2 separate regions of the Homo sapiens genome follow, and region 2 is linked to region 1. The links come from fine-mapping of genetic effects on gene expression. Tissue or cell type: lung. Region 1 holds a variant in brackets; the other region holds the start of a gene. All regions are shown on one strand. Distances are between the middles of the regions.

The links. PIP is the estimated chance that this variant, and not a neighbour inherited with it, causes the effect.
Region 2: it holds the start of WDR62, and the variant in region 1 is fine-mapped to the expression of WDR62 in lung (TOPMed, PIP 0.97).

What each region holds. Positions count from the first base shown.
Region 1 is chr19:36,016,816-36,024,916 of GRCh38, forward strand. CLIP3 (CAP-Gly domain containing linker protein 3) reads right to left here. Exons shown (of 14, transcript NM_015526.3): 7 at 7,581-7,817; 8 at 2,356-2,491; 9 at 2,083-2,211; 10 at 1,033-1,176; 11 at 840-963; 12 at 571-635; 13 at 92-164. LOC101927572 (a long non-coding RNA gene) reads left to right here. Exons shown (of 4, transcript NR_170988.1): 2 at 1-145; 3 at 2,419-2,569. Among named protein-coding and RNA genes, the nearest start is that of ALKBH6, 6.7 kb to the left of the region's middle. The variant A/G (reference allele first, on the strand shown) is at 3,144.
Region 2 is chr19:36,051,808-36,059,908 of GRCh38, forward strand. WDR62 (WD repeat domain 62) reads left to right here and starts at 3,090. Exons shown (of 32, transcript NM_001083961.2): 1 at 3,090-3,341; 2 at 6,973-7,064. The coding sequence starts at 3,165. It overlaps THAP8 (THAP domain containing 8), which reads right to left and starts at 2,478. Exons shown (of 4, transcript NM_152658.3): 1 at 2,328-2,478. The coding sequence starts at 2,410.

The DNA.
Region 1 (8,101 bases):
GACCAGAGCTCCAGACCTCTGGGTCCAACTGCCTTATGGATCCCTCTCCCTGAATGTCACATAGGAGAGGGGACAGGGGTTGGCCACACACCTGGAAATGGAGTTCTCTGATGCAATGTCCTTTGGGGTCCGGACTGTGGTGAAGGTGCGTTTGGGCTGCGTCACTGAAGAGGAGGGCAGGATGTCAAGTGAGGGGATGACAGACCACCTGTGTCCTCAATACCCATCCAGACCCCTTCTCATTAATACCTCCCCATGTCTCCAGTCCCCACCTGGATCCTACATTCCCAATACCCATCTGGGCCTCTTGTCCATAATTCCCACCATGTCCCCCAGTGACTATCCCTGTCCCCAGTATCTGCTCAACCTCATGTCCCCGAAGAGCCTTGTTGCTAATTTCCTCATATCCTCTAGCACCTATCTTTTTGTGGACCTTGTCTCATCATTTTCCTGGACCCTGTGTCCCCAATTAAATACCAGAGACTGTCACCAGTATATACCTGAGAACCCATGACCCTTCCTCCCATCCCCAAACGTACACTCCTCCCAACATATCATCCCCTAACTCACTTGTCACTTGATGCACTTTTTTGGCTCCAACGCTGTCCCCGGGGGAATCAGTGGATCCGCCAATCCTGAGGAGACACGGGGAGGGGGAGAAGTCAGAGCCACAAAAGGCCAGGGTCTGACTGAGAGCTGGGCCCCAGGGATCTATGAGGAAAGGGCTGGGGGCTCGGGGGTGTCCACACTGTCCTGCTGGTCTGGGAGGAGGAGGCCATCTGAGGGGGGATCAGGGCTCCAGGTGGTGCCCTGGGTTTGGGCTGGAAGTTTGGGCTCACCTCTGAATACGGGATGCTGGTGCGAAGACCCCATGCCTCGGGGGGCAAGTGAAGTACCGGACACCGAAGACAGAGCCATCATGCTTGCCTGTGGGCTGGTCCAGCTCAATGCCATACCAGTAACCTGCAGCACGAGGGTGTCAGGATTTCTCAAGGCCCTGCCTGCCTCCCGGCCCAGAGTCCCCATCCTCACCTGGGGCAAAGTCTGTCTTCCCGTAGAAGCGCACGATCCCCTGCTTCTGGCCCGCGACAAGGACCTGGTCTCCAACCTCAGCCTTGGCCCCGTCACGCTGCTGCAAGCTGCCCAGAGATGGGGATGATGGGGTCTTCTTCTTGCCTAAGGGTAGAAGGTGTAGGAGGTGGGTAGTGGGGCTGAGGCCAGCTTTGGGAACCTCGTGCCACCTGGAAAACCCCAAGGTAGAAAACCCTGTTCTTCGTTTGAAGTGAAACTGAATCCCAGATGCCAGAGAATTAGGAAGGGGCTTTAGGCCTGAAGGGAAACTGAGTCAGAGAACCTGAAGAACCCCAAAATCCTTTCTCAAAGCTGAGGATATGTTGGATAAGGAAAAGCTGAGTCAGAAGTCAGGAACCCAGAAACTGTCCTTTTAAAATGAAGGGAAAATTGGGTCCGAGAGTAAATCAGGCCATGTGCAGTGGCGCAGGCCTGTAATCCCAACATTTTGAGAGGCCGAGGCGGGCAGATCACTTGAGGTCAGGAGTTTGAGACCAGCCTGGCCAACATGGCAAAACCCTGTCTCTACAGAAAAAAATACAAACATTAGCCAGATGTGGTGGTGGGCACCTGTAATCCCAGCTACTCGGGAGGCTGAGGCACGAGAATTGCTTGAACCCGGGAGGCGGAGGTTGCGGTGAGCCAAGATCGTGCCACCACGCTCCAGCCTGGGCAACAAGGCGAGACTCTTGACTCAAAAAAAAAAAAAAAAAAAAGTAGATCAAATGACAAAAGACAGGATCTCCAAGGATTCTTCCCTAAAACTGGGGGAGACCTTTGGGTCTGAGAGGAAACTAAGTCACAGAGGGCAGGGAACCCACAGGTCCTTCTAAGAACTAGGGGGTGCCAGTACTGAGCCAAAGGGGAAACTGAGTCACAGAAGTCAGGAACTCAGAGCTTGTCTTCCAAAACTGGAGTTTGGGCCTGAGGAGAAACTGAGTCACAGAAGCTGAGCTACCCACACAACATCCCCAAACTGGCTCTTCCCACCACAGGGATCCCCTCTCTGACCTTTGTGTTCCCTGCGGCCTTTGCCGGTGACACGGGAGAAGTCCATCCGGGGGGTCCGGGGTGTGGAGGTGACAGAGGAGGGGGGTGCGTCCACTGCCTTGGAGATCTTGGACACGGAGGCAAAGAGACCTAGGGGTACAGAATCCGAGCCTGGTGTTGTCCAAGCCTCTGCCCTCGGCCCCCATCCTCCATCCCCTATTTCCCAGTCAGCAGCATCAGAACTGCCGAGTGGACACCCAGCCACACCCCTCTTGGGCCCGAGGTCGGACTAACCCTGCTTGGGAGGGCAGATGAAGTACCGAACGCCCCCAACGCTGCCATCGTTCTTGCCCTCAGGTTCGTCCAGCTCCACGCCCACCCACTGGCCGCTGGCAAACTCCGTGGTCCCACAGAACCGCAGTGTGCCCGTCTGGGGAGAGAAGGGAGGCGATGGCTAAGGAAGGAATGCTGGGAGGCCAACGTGGAGTGCCCACACACGGGCAGCAAGGTGGGTTGCATGAGGCCGCCCTGGGCCCAAACCCCAGGTCACACATCACCATTTGCTGGCTACATGACTTAACCTCTGTGTGCCTCAACTTCCTTTGCTGTGAAATGGGAACAGAAATTATACTCACCTTATAGGATTGTTAAAGAGTTGCCCTGTCTCATATAGTGAATAGTGACTAGCCACATAGGACAATGTAAATTTATTTATTTATTTATTTTATTTATTTTTTTTTTTTTCGAGACAGCGTCTCACTCTGTTGCCAGGCTCGAGTGCAGTGGCACGATCTCGGCTCACTGCAAATTCCACTTCCTGGGTTCAAGCAATTCTCCCATCTCAGCCTCCCAAGTAGCTGGGACTACAGGTGCATGCCACCACGCCTGGCTAATTTTTGTATTTTTAGTAGAGACGGGGCTTCGCCATGTTGGCCAGGCTGGTCTCGAATTCCTGACCTCAGGTGATCCACCCGCCTCGGCCTCCCAAAGTGCTGGGATCACAGGCATGAGCCACCATGCCTGGCCAACAATTTAAATTTAAACTAAGGCCGGGTGTGGTGGCTCATGCCTATAATCCCAAC[A/G]CTTTGGGATGCCAAGGCTGGAGGATCACTTGAGGCCAGGAGTTTCAGACCAGCCTGGGTGAAAATGGCGAGACCCTCTAATCTTAATCTGTTCCAAAAAACAAAGACAGCAAGACCCTATTCTCTATAAAAGAAAGAAAAAAGGTAACCAGGTGCAGTAGCTCAAGCCTGTTGTCCCAGTTACTTGGGAGGCTGAGGTGGGAGGATCGCTTGAGCCCAGGAGTTCAAGGGTGCAGTGAGCTATGATGGTGCCACTGCACTCCAGCCTGGGCAACAAGCAAGACCCTGTCTCAAAAATAAATAAATACATACCTTAGAAAGAAGACTCAGATGATTTTTAAATTTAAAAATAAATAAATTTAGTCCGGGCGCGGTGGCTCACACCTATAATCCTAGCACTCTGGGAGGCCGAGGTGGGAGGATCACCTGAGGTCAGGAGTTCAAGACCAGCCTGGCCAACATGGTGAAACCCCCATCTCTACTAAAAATACAAAAATTAACCAGGCATGATGGTGCACGCCTGTAATCCCAGCTACTCGGGAGGCTGAGGCAGGAGAATTGCTTGAACCCAGGAGGGTTGCAGTGAGCCCAGATAGCACCACTGCACTCCAGCCTGAGCAACAGAGCAAGACTCTGTCTCAAGAAAAAATATAAATAAATAAAAATACAAATCAATACATTTAAACTAAATTAAAAATGCATTTCCCCAGTCACACTAGCCATATTTCAAGTGCTCAATTGTCACATGTAGCTTGTAGCTACTTTACTGGACAGCACAGACAGAATATTTCCACCATTACAGAAAGCTCTGTTGGACAGGGCTGTTATAGAGAAATTAAAGCCCTCAGAACAGGGCTTGGTATTAAGTAAAGGATCAGCAAGTATTCGTTATTGAAATTTTTTTTCTATTTTAGAGACAGGGTCTCACTCTGTGGCCCAGGCTGGAGTGCAGTGGTGCAATCATAGCTCAGTGTAACCTTGAACTCCTGGGTTCAAGCAATCTTCCCTCCTCAGTCTCCCGAGTAGCTGGGACTACAGGTGAACGCCACCAAAGCCTGGCTAATTAAAACAACAACAACAACAACAAACTTTTGTTAAAAATAGAAATGGAGTATCCCTATGTTGCCCAGGTTAGTTTCAAACTCCTGGCCTCAAGCGATCCTCCCCATCTTGGCCTCCCAAAGTGCTGGGATTACAGGTGTGAAGCCACTGTGCTCAGCCTGTTAGCTATTATCATGCTGTAACTTTGGTCAGGGGACTTATTGAGCCTCAGTTTCATCTGTAAAATAGAGATAGTAAGCCACCTCATGGAGTGATCATCTGGCGGAAACTTTTTTTTTTTTTAGACAGGGTCTCACTTTGTTGCCCATGCCAGGGGTGCAGTGGCACGACCCTGGCACAGTGCAGCCTCAAACTCCTGGGCACAAGTGATCCTCTCACTTCAGCCTCCCAAGTAGCTAGGACTACAGGTGTGCGCCACCATGCCTGATTAATTTTTTCATTATTAGTAGAGATGAGGTCTCACCATGTTGATTGCCCAGGCTGGTCTTGAACTCCTGGGCTCAAGCGATCCTCTCACTTCAGCCTCCCAAGTAGCTAGGACTATAGGTGTGTGCCACCATGCCTGGTTAATTTTTTCATTTTTAGTAGAGATGAGGTCTCACTATGTTGCCCAGGCTGGTCTCGAATTCCTGGGCTCAAGCGATCCTTCTGCCTCAGCCTCCCAAAGTGCTGGGATTACAGGCATGAGCCACCACATTTGGCGGAAACATTTTTAACACATGTAAACTTGCTTAGCTGCAGTGAGACTTTAGTGAGTGTGGTTATTATCATTATGGGAGGCTCATTCACCTCTCCATGCCTCAGTTCCTGGTCCATATAATAGGCTAATTAATTAGTGCTGATCTTTTTTTATTTTTATTTATTTATTTTTTTTTGGAGACGGAGTCTCACACTTTGGCCCAGGCTGGAGTGCAGTGGCATGATCTTGGCTCACTGCAAGCTCCGCCTCCTGGGTTCATGCCATTCTCCTGCCTCAGCCTCCTGAGTAGCTGGGACTACAGGCACCTGCCACCATGCCTGGCTAATTTTTTGTATTTTTTTTGTAGAGACGAGGTTTCACCGGGTTAGCCAGGATGGTCTCGATCTCCTGACCTCGTGATCCGCCCACCTCTGCCTCCCAAAGTGCTGGGATTACAGGCGTGAGGCACCGCGCCCCGACAATTAGTGCTGATCTTAAGAGTGTTGGTGGAGGGACTAGAACAGTGCCTGGCACACACAAAGAGCATTTAGTATGCGCTGGACTCTGTTCTAATGGCCTTACGCATTTTAATTAATTTAAACCTCAACCAGCCCCCTAAGGTGGTTACTATTATTATCTCCATTTACGGATGAAGACATTGACACCCAAAGAGGCAGAATCACTGGCTCCAGGTCCACAGGTGGGAAGTTGCAAAGCTGAGATTTACCTGGGCAAGTCCCTGAGCCTGAGTTCATGACGCTGTGCTATGCTGCTTCTCTAAGGGGCAGTGATTAGTATTCCGTGTCTTCAGATAAAGGTTTTCACCTGTTGGAGCCTCTTATAGTCTGGCTTGTAAAATGGGAAGAGTCAACCCAACCTTCCTTCTGAATTGTGCAATGGATATGATTAGATCGTGCACAGCAGAATGCTTTCTGGATGGGGCCGGGCGCAGTGGCTTATGCCTGTAATCCCAGCACTTTGGGAGCCAAGGCGGGCGAATCGCTTGAGGGCAGGAGTTTGAGACCAGCCTGGCCAATATGGTGAAACCCGTTGCTACTAAAAATAAAAATAAAAGGCCAGGCGCGGTGGCTCACGCCTGTAATCCCAGCACTTTGGGAGGCTGAGGCGGGCGGATCACGAGGTCAGGAGATCAAGACCATCCTGGCTAACACAGTGACACCCTCTCTCTACTAAAAATACAAATAATTAGCCAGGCATGGTGGTGGGCACCTGTAGTCCCAGCTACTCGGGAGGCTGAGGCAGGAGAATGGCATGAACCCAGGAGGCAGAGCTTGCAGTGAGCTGAGATCGCGCCACCGCACTCCAGCCTAGGCGACAGAGCAAGACTCCATCTCAAAATAATAATAATAATAATCATAATAATAAAAATAAACCCAGGCTTGTTGGCACACACTTGTAATCCCAGCTACGTGGGAGGCTAAGACATGAGAATAGCTTGAATCTGGGAGGTGGAGGTTGCTGTGAGCCAAGATCGTGCCACTGCACTCTGGCCTGGGTGACAGCAAGACCCTGTCTCAAAAACACAAAAACAAAATTCAAACTCCTTCCAGTAGCCTACAGGTCTGCTGTGACCCAGCCTTGCTGACCTCTCCACCTCACCGCCCTTCCCATAACTCCCCTCGTCAACACTGCCCCTTCCTGCCTCTGGGTCTCCATACCTACTGCATCCTCTGCTTCCTTATCTTTGCAAAGGAAGTTCTTTCCTATCTCAGTTTGGACATCACCTCCTCAGAGAAGCCTTCTCAGAACACCCCAGCTAAAACCACTCCAGCATTCAGCCAGGGACAATTTACTAAATCCAAACATGTAATGGTGTTGACAGCCCTTGTTGCTACCAGAAATTACCTTTTTTTTTTTTTTTCAATAGAGGCAGGATCTCACTATGTTGCCCAGGCTGGTCTCTAACAACTCCTGACCTCAAGTGATCCTCCCACCTCGGCCTCCCAAAATGCCGGGATTAGAGGTGTGAACTACCGTGCCCAGCCCAGAAATCATCTCAACCATAGGTTTACTTTCTTGACTGTCTCCCCTTCATTACAAGTGGAGCCCCATGACAGCAGGGCGGGGGCAGACACAGCCCTCCCTCCCTAAGGACAGACTGGGTCCCGTATGGAGCCCAAGGGACACCGGGAAATGAGTGAAATTGGAGTCCCTGGATAAATGAAGATTCTCTCTGCCCTCTCAGCTGTGATACCCGCTCCCCCAAGCTGAGACTCCTTTCTCCCTTTCTTTCCCTGGCTTGCTCCTCCACATCTGCAATTTGGGTACATTCCCCATCACACCCCAATCACTCTGGCCTGGACTTGCCTAGCCAGACTTGTCTCTGAGAGCAGAGGGGCCTGATCGAGGACCACAAGACCCGGGGGGAGCCACAGGTGCACAGAGCTGCGCAGATCACTCTGCTCACCCCTCCCCATGGCAGCCATGACCACTCTCGGCCGTCACTGTCAGATGACGGGTTGTTTCCCACCCTGGATGGAGAGCTCAGCACAGGGTGAGGCTCAAAGGAGACACCCACGGAACAACTGAGATAAAATCAAGTACTGGGTGGATAGTTAGGGCGGCAAGTAGACAAAGGGCAGGGACTGCACTCTGCCCGAGGACGCAGCTCCAAGGGATTAAGGGGCTGAGTCCCACCCCCACCCACCATGCAAACACACATCCCAGCCCCTGACCTTCTGGCCATCCAGCAGCACGCGGTCTCCCAGGCGCAAGCCCAGTGCGCTAAGCATGAGATTGCCTGGGACGTTGTCATAGTTGGGTAGCGTGACCTTGGGGAGGGCGCAAGATAGTGGCACTGCCTCTTCCAGAAGCGTCCGCAGCTCCTTGGCCACCAGTGCCGCCTCTGCCTTGTCCAGGGACATGTCCATAGGATCTGGGACCACCTCCGCCGGCACCTGTCCTTTTCGATTCTGGGGGCCAATGGGAAAAGAAGGCAGGGACTCAGTGGCACAGGTCACACCCCCATGGAGGCCCTGCCCCTAGAGACCACCAGTCTGGGTGATGCAGGGGTAAGACTAGGTCATATCCTGGGCCAACCTGGGAATAAGAAGGGTCAGGGCAAGGCGGGGTAAGGTGGCTCACGCCTGTAATCCCAGTACGTTGTGAGGCCGAGGCAGGCAGATGCTTGAGGTCAGGAGTTCAAGACCAGCCTGGCCAACATGGTGAAACCTCGTCTGTACTAAAAATACAAAAA
Region 2 (8,101 bases), 35 kb after region 1:
TGGCCTGTTAGGAATAGGGCCACACAGCAGGAGGTGAGTGGCAGGCAGGTGAGCGAGTGAGAGAAGCTTCATCTGTATTTACAGCCACTCCCCACTGCTCGCATTACCACCTGAGTTCCGCCTCCTGTCAGAGCAGCAGCAGCATTAGATTCTCACAAGAGTGTGAATCCTATTCTGAACTGTGCATGTGAGAGATCTAGGTTGCCCTCCATTTTTTTTTTGTTTGTTTGTTTTTTGGGTTTTTTGGTTTTTTTTTTAGATGAAGTCTCACTCTGTCGCCAGGCTGGAGTGCAGTGGCGCAATCTCGGCTCACTGCAACCTCTGCCTCCTGGGTTCAAGTGATCCTCCTGCCTCAGCCTCCCAAGTAGCTGGGATTACAGGCATGTGCCACCACACCTAGCTAATTTTTGTATTTTTAGTAGAGACAAGGTTTCGCCATGTTGGCCAGGATGGTCTCGATCTCCTGACCTCGTGATCTGCCCGCCTTGGCCTCCCAAAGTGCTGGGATTACAGGCATGAGCCACTGTGCCTGGCCAGTTGCCCGCTTTTTATGAGAATCTAATGCCTGATGATCTGAAGCGTTTCATCCCAAAACCATTCCCCCAACCCTATCCCATCCGTGGAAAAACTGTCTTCCACAAAACCAGTCCCTGGTGCCATAAGGGTTGGGGACCACTGCCATAGGCCCTATGGGCCTTTGTTTTGTGAGGGAGTCTCAACAAACAGAGTTATTTTTTAGGTGAAATGTAAACTAAGCAGTGTTCAGATTGCCTCAAAGCAAATCAGAACTGTGTGTAAAGGGATCAATATCAGGTCCGGATGGTGAAGTGGGCCCAGGGTTTGTCTTCTCAGATGCAATAAAGTTTACATAGATGTAGAATATTGTGTCCTTATCTGAAGCTCCAAACCTGGATTGTAAATAGGGACTGCTTTTCTGTGTCAAAGTGACTTAGCTCCTCCAAGCAAAAGTGAGATGTTTCATTCTTACTTGATGTGATTTCAAACAGCAAAGTTTGTGATCATCTCTGACTTTAGACAACCAAAGTTTCCTACTAAGAAAGCAGTAGACACTCAAAGGATGGGAATTCTGCCACTTTACATCTGCAGTATGTCCAAGAGAAATATTTTTTCCTGGCTGGGTGCAGTGGCTCACGCCTGTAATCCAAGCACTTTGGGAGGCCGAGGCAGGAGGACTGCTTGTGCCCAGGAGTTTGAGACTAGACTGGACAACATAGGGTGATCCCATCTCTCTCTTTAAAAACAAAATTTTTTTTTTTGAGACGGAGTCTCACTCTTGTTGCCCACGCTGGATTGCAGTGGCCTCATCTTGGCTCACTGCAACCTCTGCCTTCTGGATTCATGCGATTCTCCTGCCTCAGCCCACGGAGTAGCTGGAATTACACGCATGAGCCACCACGCCCATCTAATTTTTGTATTTTTAGTAGACACGGGGTTTCACCATGTTGGCCAGGCTGGTCTCGAACTCCTGACCTCAGGTGATCTGCCCGCCTCGGCCTCCCAAAGTGCTGGGATTACAGGCGTGAGCCACCAAGCCTGGCAAAAAAAAAAAAAAAAAAAAAAAAAAAAAAAAATTTAAATTATCCAGGCATGGTGGCGCGTGCCTCTGGTCCCAGCTACTTGGTAGGGTGAGGTGGGAGGATCACTTGAGCCCGGGAGGTCGAGGTTGCAGTGAGCTGTGATCGTTCCACTGCATTCCAGCCTGGGCGACAAAGCGATCTTGTCTCAAAAAAAAAAAAAAAAAAAAGCAAAGAAATGTTTTTTCCTAGTAATTCTTCCACCAACTGGCTTATGTCAGCCAGATAAATAAGGAGACAGATCTTTTACAGTCGAAGCTAATTCTGACTTTCCCAAGTATGACGAAAGAGGTAAGGATGACATTTTTTAAACCTAAGCAACAAGAAGAATGAAGCACGCTACTAAGATAAGACAGACTGGAAGGTTTTGGGGAGACACGATCGCAAGCTCAGTTTCGGATGCTCTGAGTTTCAGATGGCTCAAATGCGTGGGGAGGGCAAGTGGGCATCTGCAGGCTCTCTAACAGCCTGCACCGACTTCACTTCTTACATCCCTTTCACTCTTCGGCTCGCTTCGCTCGCTATCTGTAGTCAATCGTCTACTCCTGTTTCCCACGCCTGCACCTTTGTATGTGCAATGGACACTGCCAGGAAGGCCATCTCCTCATGGTTTAACCCCACTTCCTAACACCCTCAAGCAAGACCAGAAGCCCCGCACAGCAGCACTAATGCTCGGGCCCCACCCCTCTCAGGGTCCCGCCTCCCTCAAGCCCCGCCCCGCGCTGCGCTCACTTGTAGAAGCTCACAGGGCGGTTGTCTGCACCCAGGCGGCCCGCAGTGTTGGAGCAGTTCGGCGCCCTGCAGTACTTGGGCATGGCTATCCAGCCCCCGCTGAGTTTTGCCGGGTCAGCGGCTGCACTTTGGTTCTCGCGGAGCGCCGCCTAACCCCGCCCCACCCGCGCTCGCCGCCTGCCTCACGTGACGTCCGTGGAGTCTCGTCACGTACCGGGGAGAGAGCTGAGAGCGCCTGCCTACTAGGCGCCCCTCCACAGTGCCACAGTCCCGCCCTCGTCACGTGACGAATGGGCCATAGCGAGTACTGTGCACCTGCGCAAAGCCGGCCCTTCGTCACCCCGACTTTCATCACGTGTTGGGGGGAAGGGCGGCGTCACGGCGTTTCTGAGCCTGCGCCAACCAAATCAACTGGCTAGTCAATCTCTTACGGCTCCACCCTACGCCTACATCCGGGCAACCGTTGGGGCGCACATAGTTCCTCTAGGTGGCGGCAAAAACCGAGGTGAGGCGGCCGTGGCCTTAGCCTCGTAAAAATTAAAACCTGTATGTTTCAGCGAATAATGAAAACGCAGTCTGGATGAAAGACCCCATGACGCTTAATCAGGCATCCAGTACACTGGCTGTGGCCCCGCCCCGCCAGGCACTCGCTCCGCCTCTTCGCCCCCATTGGTTCTAAGCGCCGCCCGGCATCCCTGCGATTGGCTAGGCCGGGCCCGTCGCGTCCAATAGGCGGTGGCGCCGGCTTTCCCGCGGCTGTTCGCTGTTCCAGTGGGTCGTGGCGGTGGCGGCAGCGGCGGTTAGGGGATGTAACGGTCGCCCGCCTCCGGCGTGACGATGGCGGCCGTAGGGTCCGGAGGCTATGCGCGGAACGATGCAGGGGAGAAGCTGCCCTCTGTCATGGCGGGAGTTCCGGCGCGGAGGGGCCAGTCCTCCCCGCCCCCCGCCCCACCAATCTGCCTACGGCGGCGGACGCGACTCTCGACGGCCTCCGAGGAGACGGTGCAGAACCGGGTGAGAAGCTGCTCGCCATGTCTACCCCAGTTCCAGGCTTCCTAGGTTTCCCCTAGTCCCGTCCTGAGAACTGTGGCCCCGACATCAGCCCCCGGCCAGTCCCCTCAGGTTGTTCCCTGCCATGCCTCGTCCCCTAACCCCCGCCCCTTTAGCCACGGCCCCTCCCACTTTCTCCTCGCTGCTTTCCCGGCTCCACCCTCAGCGTTGGAGCAATTCGGGGGTTCCTCGCTGGTTCCCACCCGTGGAAATGCATTTTGCTTCTGTAAATCACAGCCTAGTCCTGCTATATTTTAACCCCCGTTCTATCGCCTTTAGACGTCACGATCATAGCTCACTGCAGCCTCACTGCCCTGGCCCCCGCTGAGTCATTAAGGTCCCTTCGAGGGTTCGGTCCAGAGTGTTACCTGCCCCAACTCTTCCTCGCTTCTACCCCGCCTTCTCTCACCTTCTGCGATCTCTATCCTTTTTCCTCACCAAGGTGGGATTCTTAATCCATATTGTCACTCAAAACTATGAGAAAGACGTGAGAAGTTATTTATAAAATCTCTGCAGTGCTGCCTGGGGAGGAGGGCGTACAGAACAGTTCCCTAAATCCTGAGACAGAAAAATGGAAAGAAATGATTTCACAGTAGGTAGAAGGAATTCCATTAGCACAGCGGCAATTAAAAAAATTGTTTTCCAGCTGTGTAGGCACAAAATCTGTTTTTATAAAATGGAGATGATAAGAACCATACTACTGGTAGGGCGCGGTAGCTCACGTCTGTAATCCCAGCACTTTGGGAGGCCAAGGTGGGCTGTTCACCTGAGATCAGTTCAAGACCAGCCTGGCCAACATGGTGAAACCCGTCTCTACAAAAAGTAGAAAAATTAGCCCGGCATGCTAGCGCGCGCCTGTAATCCCAGCTACTCAGGAGGCTGAGGCGGGAGAAATCGCTTGAACCTGGGAGGCGGAGGTTGCAGTGAGCTGAGGTCATGCCACTGCACTCCAGCCTGGGCGACAGAGTGAGACTCTGTCTCAAAATAAATAAATAAATAAATTATACTATTGCATTGGAGGGAAATGAAATTTTAATTGTGATCTTCTTGGCACGGAGTCCAGATAAAGGGAGGATACCTGGTAGCTGCTGGTGGAGCTTGTTCCTGCCCCATGACTTTCTCCTGCACTGTGATTATACCGCCCACTCCTGGCTACAGGGCTCTGGCTGTACCTCCCATGTGCTCTCTGTCACCAAGGTTCAGTCACACTGGCCTGCTTTTGGTTTTCCTGAGGCTCCATATTCTTTTCTGCCTCCTGGCCTTTGTGATTGGTGAGTCCTCAGCCTGGGCTTTTTGCTGCAATCTGCCTGTCTGGCTCCTTCCCATCCTTCAAGTCTCAGCCTGAATGTCGCTATCTTGAAAGGCCTTCTCGAACCCCATTCTAAAGCAAACAGCCACCTTCATCTGTCACCCAGCACCCTATACTTCATAGCCTTTATCTTATATGTTCCTGAAAGTGCCCTTTGAGCTATTAAACTACATATAACAATAGCAAATTCAGAGAGGCGTTATAGCAAAGTGGCTAAGAGCACAGACTGCTGCTGATGGTATGGTTGGACCCAGGCAGCCTGAGCTTAAACTTTAGTCCTGTTCTTCCTGGCAGGTTATGAACTTCGCTTTTTCTTTTCTTTTTTTTTTTTTTTGAGATGGGGTCTTACTCTGTCATCCAGGCTGTAGTGCACTGGGTTGATCTCGGCTCACTGCAGTCTCAGCCTCCCTGGGCTCAGGTGATCTTCCTGCCTCAAGCCTCCTGAGTAGCTGGGACTGCAGGCGCATGCCACCATACCTGACTAATTTTTTTGTGTTTTCTGGTAGAGACAGGGTCTCGCCGTGTTGGCCAGGCTGGTCTTGAATTACTGAGCTCAAGCGATCTGCCTGCCTCGGCCTCCCAAAGTGCTAGGATTACAGGCGTGAGCTACTGTGCCCCGCCAAGTTATGAACTTATCTGTGCCTCAGTTTTCTTATCTGTAAAATGAGAATAATGATGTAGAAATCTCTCATAGGGTATTTGTGAGGATTCAATGAGGTTACATATCCTAGGCACTTAGAACAACACTGGCATATGGCAAGTACTCTATTCATGTTAGCTAATACTGATATTATGACTGTGTATTTGGGGTAATATTTATTTATTTTTTTTGTTTGGCAGCACAGAGTTGATCTGTCTTGCAAAGACCTAGTCTAAAAGTGACCATTCATACCAGGGCCCAGTAATGCTGATCGACAGATAAGACAACATGAGTGCCATGGCTTGGTTGTTTGTGTTGGAATCCTGGCACTACCCCTTCCTGGATGGGTAACCCCTCTTGGCCTCTGTTTCCTCAACTGTTTTGTTCCTTTTTTTTTTTGAGACAGAGTCTCACTCTGTCGCCCAGGATGGAGTGCAATGGTGCCATCTCAGCTCACTGCAACCTCCGCCTCCTGGGTTCAAGCGATTTTACTGCCTCAGCCTCCTGAGTGCCTGGGATTATAGGCATGGGCCACCACACCTGACTAATTTTTTTGTATTTTTAGTAGAGACAGGGTTTCGCCATCTTGGCCAGGATGGTCTCAAACTCTTGACTGAGCCACCACACCCAGCCTTGTTTAAATTTTAAATATTACTGTTCATGTGGTTTTTTACTCGTTGAAACCGCTCAAATTTCTGGACTGTGAATCTGATGTGGGGAAACTGTCTACCTTTGGTCACTACTGTGTCTCTCCTGTACAGCCCAAAGTGCTAGCTTTGGAGCCAGACTGCCTGGGTTTGTATATCAACATTGCCACTTGCAGATGTAGGATCTTGGGCCTCAGACTTCTTACCTGTAAAACAGGGGTGATAATAGAGCCTTCTTCGTGGCTTGTTGGGAGGATTCAAGTCTTTTATACATATAAAAGTACTAAGAGGCCGGGCACAGTGGCTCATGCCTGTAATCCTAGCACTTTGGGAGGCCGAGGCGGGTGTATCACCTGAGGTCAGGAGTTCGAGGCCAGCCTGGCCAACATGGTGAAACCCCATCTCTACTAAAAATACAAAAATTAGCCGGACATGGTGGCATGTGCCTGTAATCCTAGCTACTCAGGAGGCTGAGGCAGGAGAATTGCTTGAACCTGGAAGGCGGAGGTTGCAATGAGCCAAGATCTCACCACTGACTCCAGCCTGGGTGACAGAGCAAGACTCCATCTCAAAAACAAACAAAAAAAAGTACTTAGAAACTTATTCACAGGTCACCTTCTCACCGCGGCATTCGCCCCCTTCCCCTGTGCTCCTAACCTCCTTATCTGCTTTCTTCTCTCTTGCACCCATCATTACTTGGCATCTATTTCACATATTTGTTCTGCTCCTTTTCTATGTTCTACATACCCATCACCAGTAGAATGTGAGCCCCCCGAGGGCAGGGATTTGTCTCTTCCTCACCACTCTGTGCTTTTCACCTAGCGTTGTATTTGTCAAAGGAATGTTGAGAGAACAAGTGTTAGCTGCTGGTGGATGGCGTGGCCACAGAAGCTCAGTGTGGGTGTTGAATGTAGCAGGACCTGAATGGGTGGCCAAGGCGGCTGCACCATGTGGTGCTGGCTAGGGTGGGTGCCTCTGACTTGGGCTTTTTCTTTGCAGGTGTCACTCGAGAAGGTGCTTGGCATCACAGCCCAGAACAGCAGTGGCCTAACCTGTGACCCCGGCACAGGCCATGTGGCCTACCTGGCAGGGTAAGCAGATAAGGGCCTCGACGTCTAATCATTGCTAGGGAATTTGGAGCTTGGAACCTGAAGCCATCCGTAAATCGCTCTGAGCCTCATATTTTTCACCTGTAGAATGTGGAGAATGGGGCCTGCCTCTGAGAGCTGTGGAGAGGATTCCATAGCCCCCTCTCTGTCTAGAACAGTTCCTGGCATGTAGTGAGTGCAATGAAAGCCTTTATTATGACTACAGGGGGGAGGTGACAGCGATTCTGGGAAAGACAGGTGATTAAAGTCCACGCTGTGGTGTCAGGTAACCTGGATTTGTGTCCCAGCTCTGCCATGTATGCTGCTCTCTGAGCCTCTTCCTCTGCCTCTGTAAAACAGAGCTGGTGACCCCCTCTGCTTGCATAGTTGAGAAGACTGAAGAAGATGCTACAGCTGTTCATTCCATAAATACTCATGTAGCCTGGCACTGTGCTAAGGACGTCCCCTCTCTGGGTTTGTTTCCTTATCTATAAATGGGCCTAAATAGTCGTGACCTGACCTGGCAGTTGTGAGGATTTAAAACAATTACATCCCTCTTTCTCTCTTTTTGTTTTGTTTTGCTTTTTTGAGACAGAGTCTGGCTGTGTTGCCCAGGCTAGAATGCAATAGTGTGAATAACAGCTCACTACAGCCCCAACCTCCTGTGCTCAAGCGATCCTCCCATCTTCACCTCCCATGTAGCTGGGACTACAGGCACATGCCACCACAGCCAGCTAATTTTTTTTAGTGGAGATGAGATCTCACTCTGTCGCCCAGGCTGGTCTAAAACTCCTGAGCTCAAGTGATCCCTCCTGCCCCATACTCCCAAAGTGCTGGGATTATAGCCAGCTTAAGGTCTTAATTAGCCTAGGGCCTGACAGACATTACCTCAGAGGAAGTGTTGGTTTCTATTTAAGAACATAGCAATGTTAAAGTGCCCTAGAATTCTCAGCGTAAACACCTGGAGGAGGGGGAGGAGGAGGAGACCAGAGAGAACCGAGGGAGCTTGTTTATTTGTGGGCTTTTCTGGTGGGAATAGA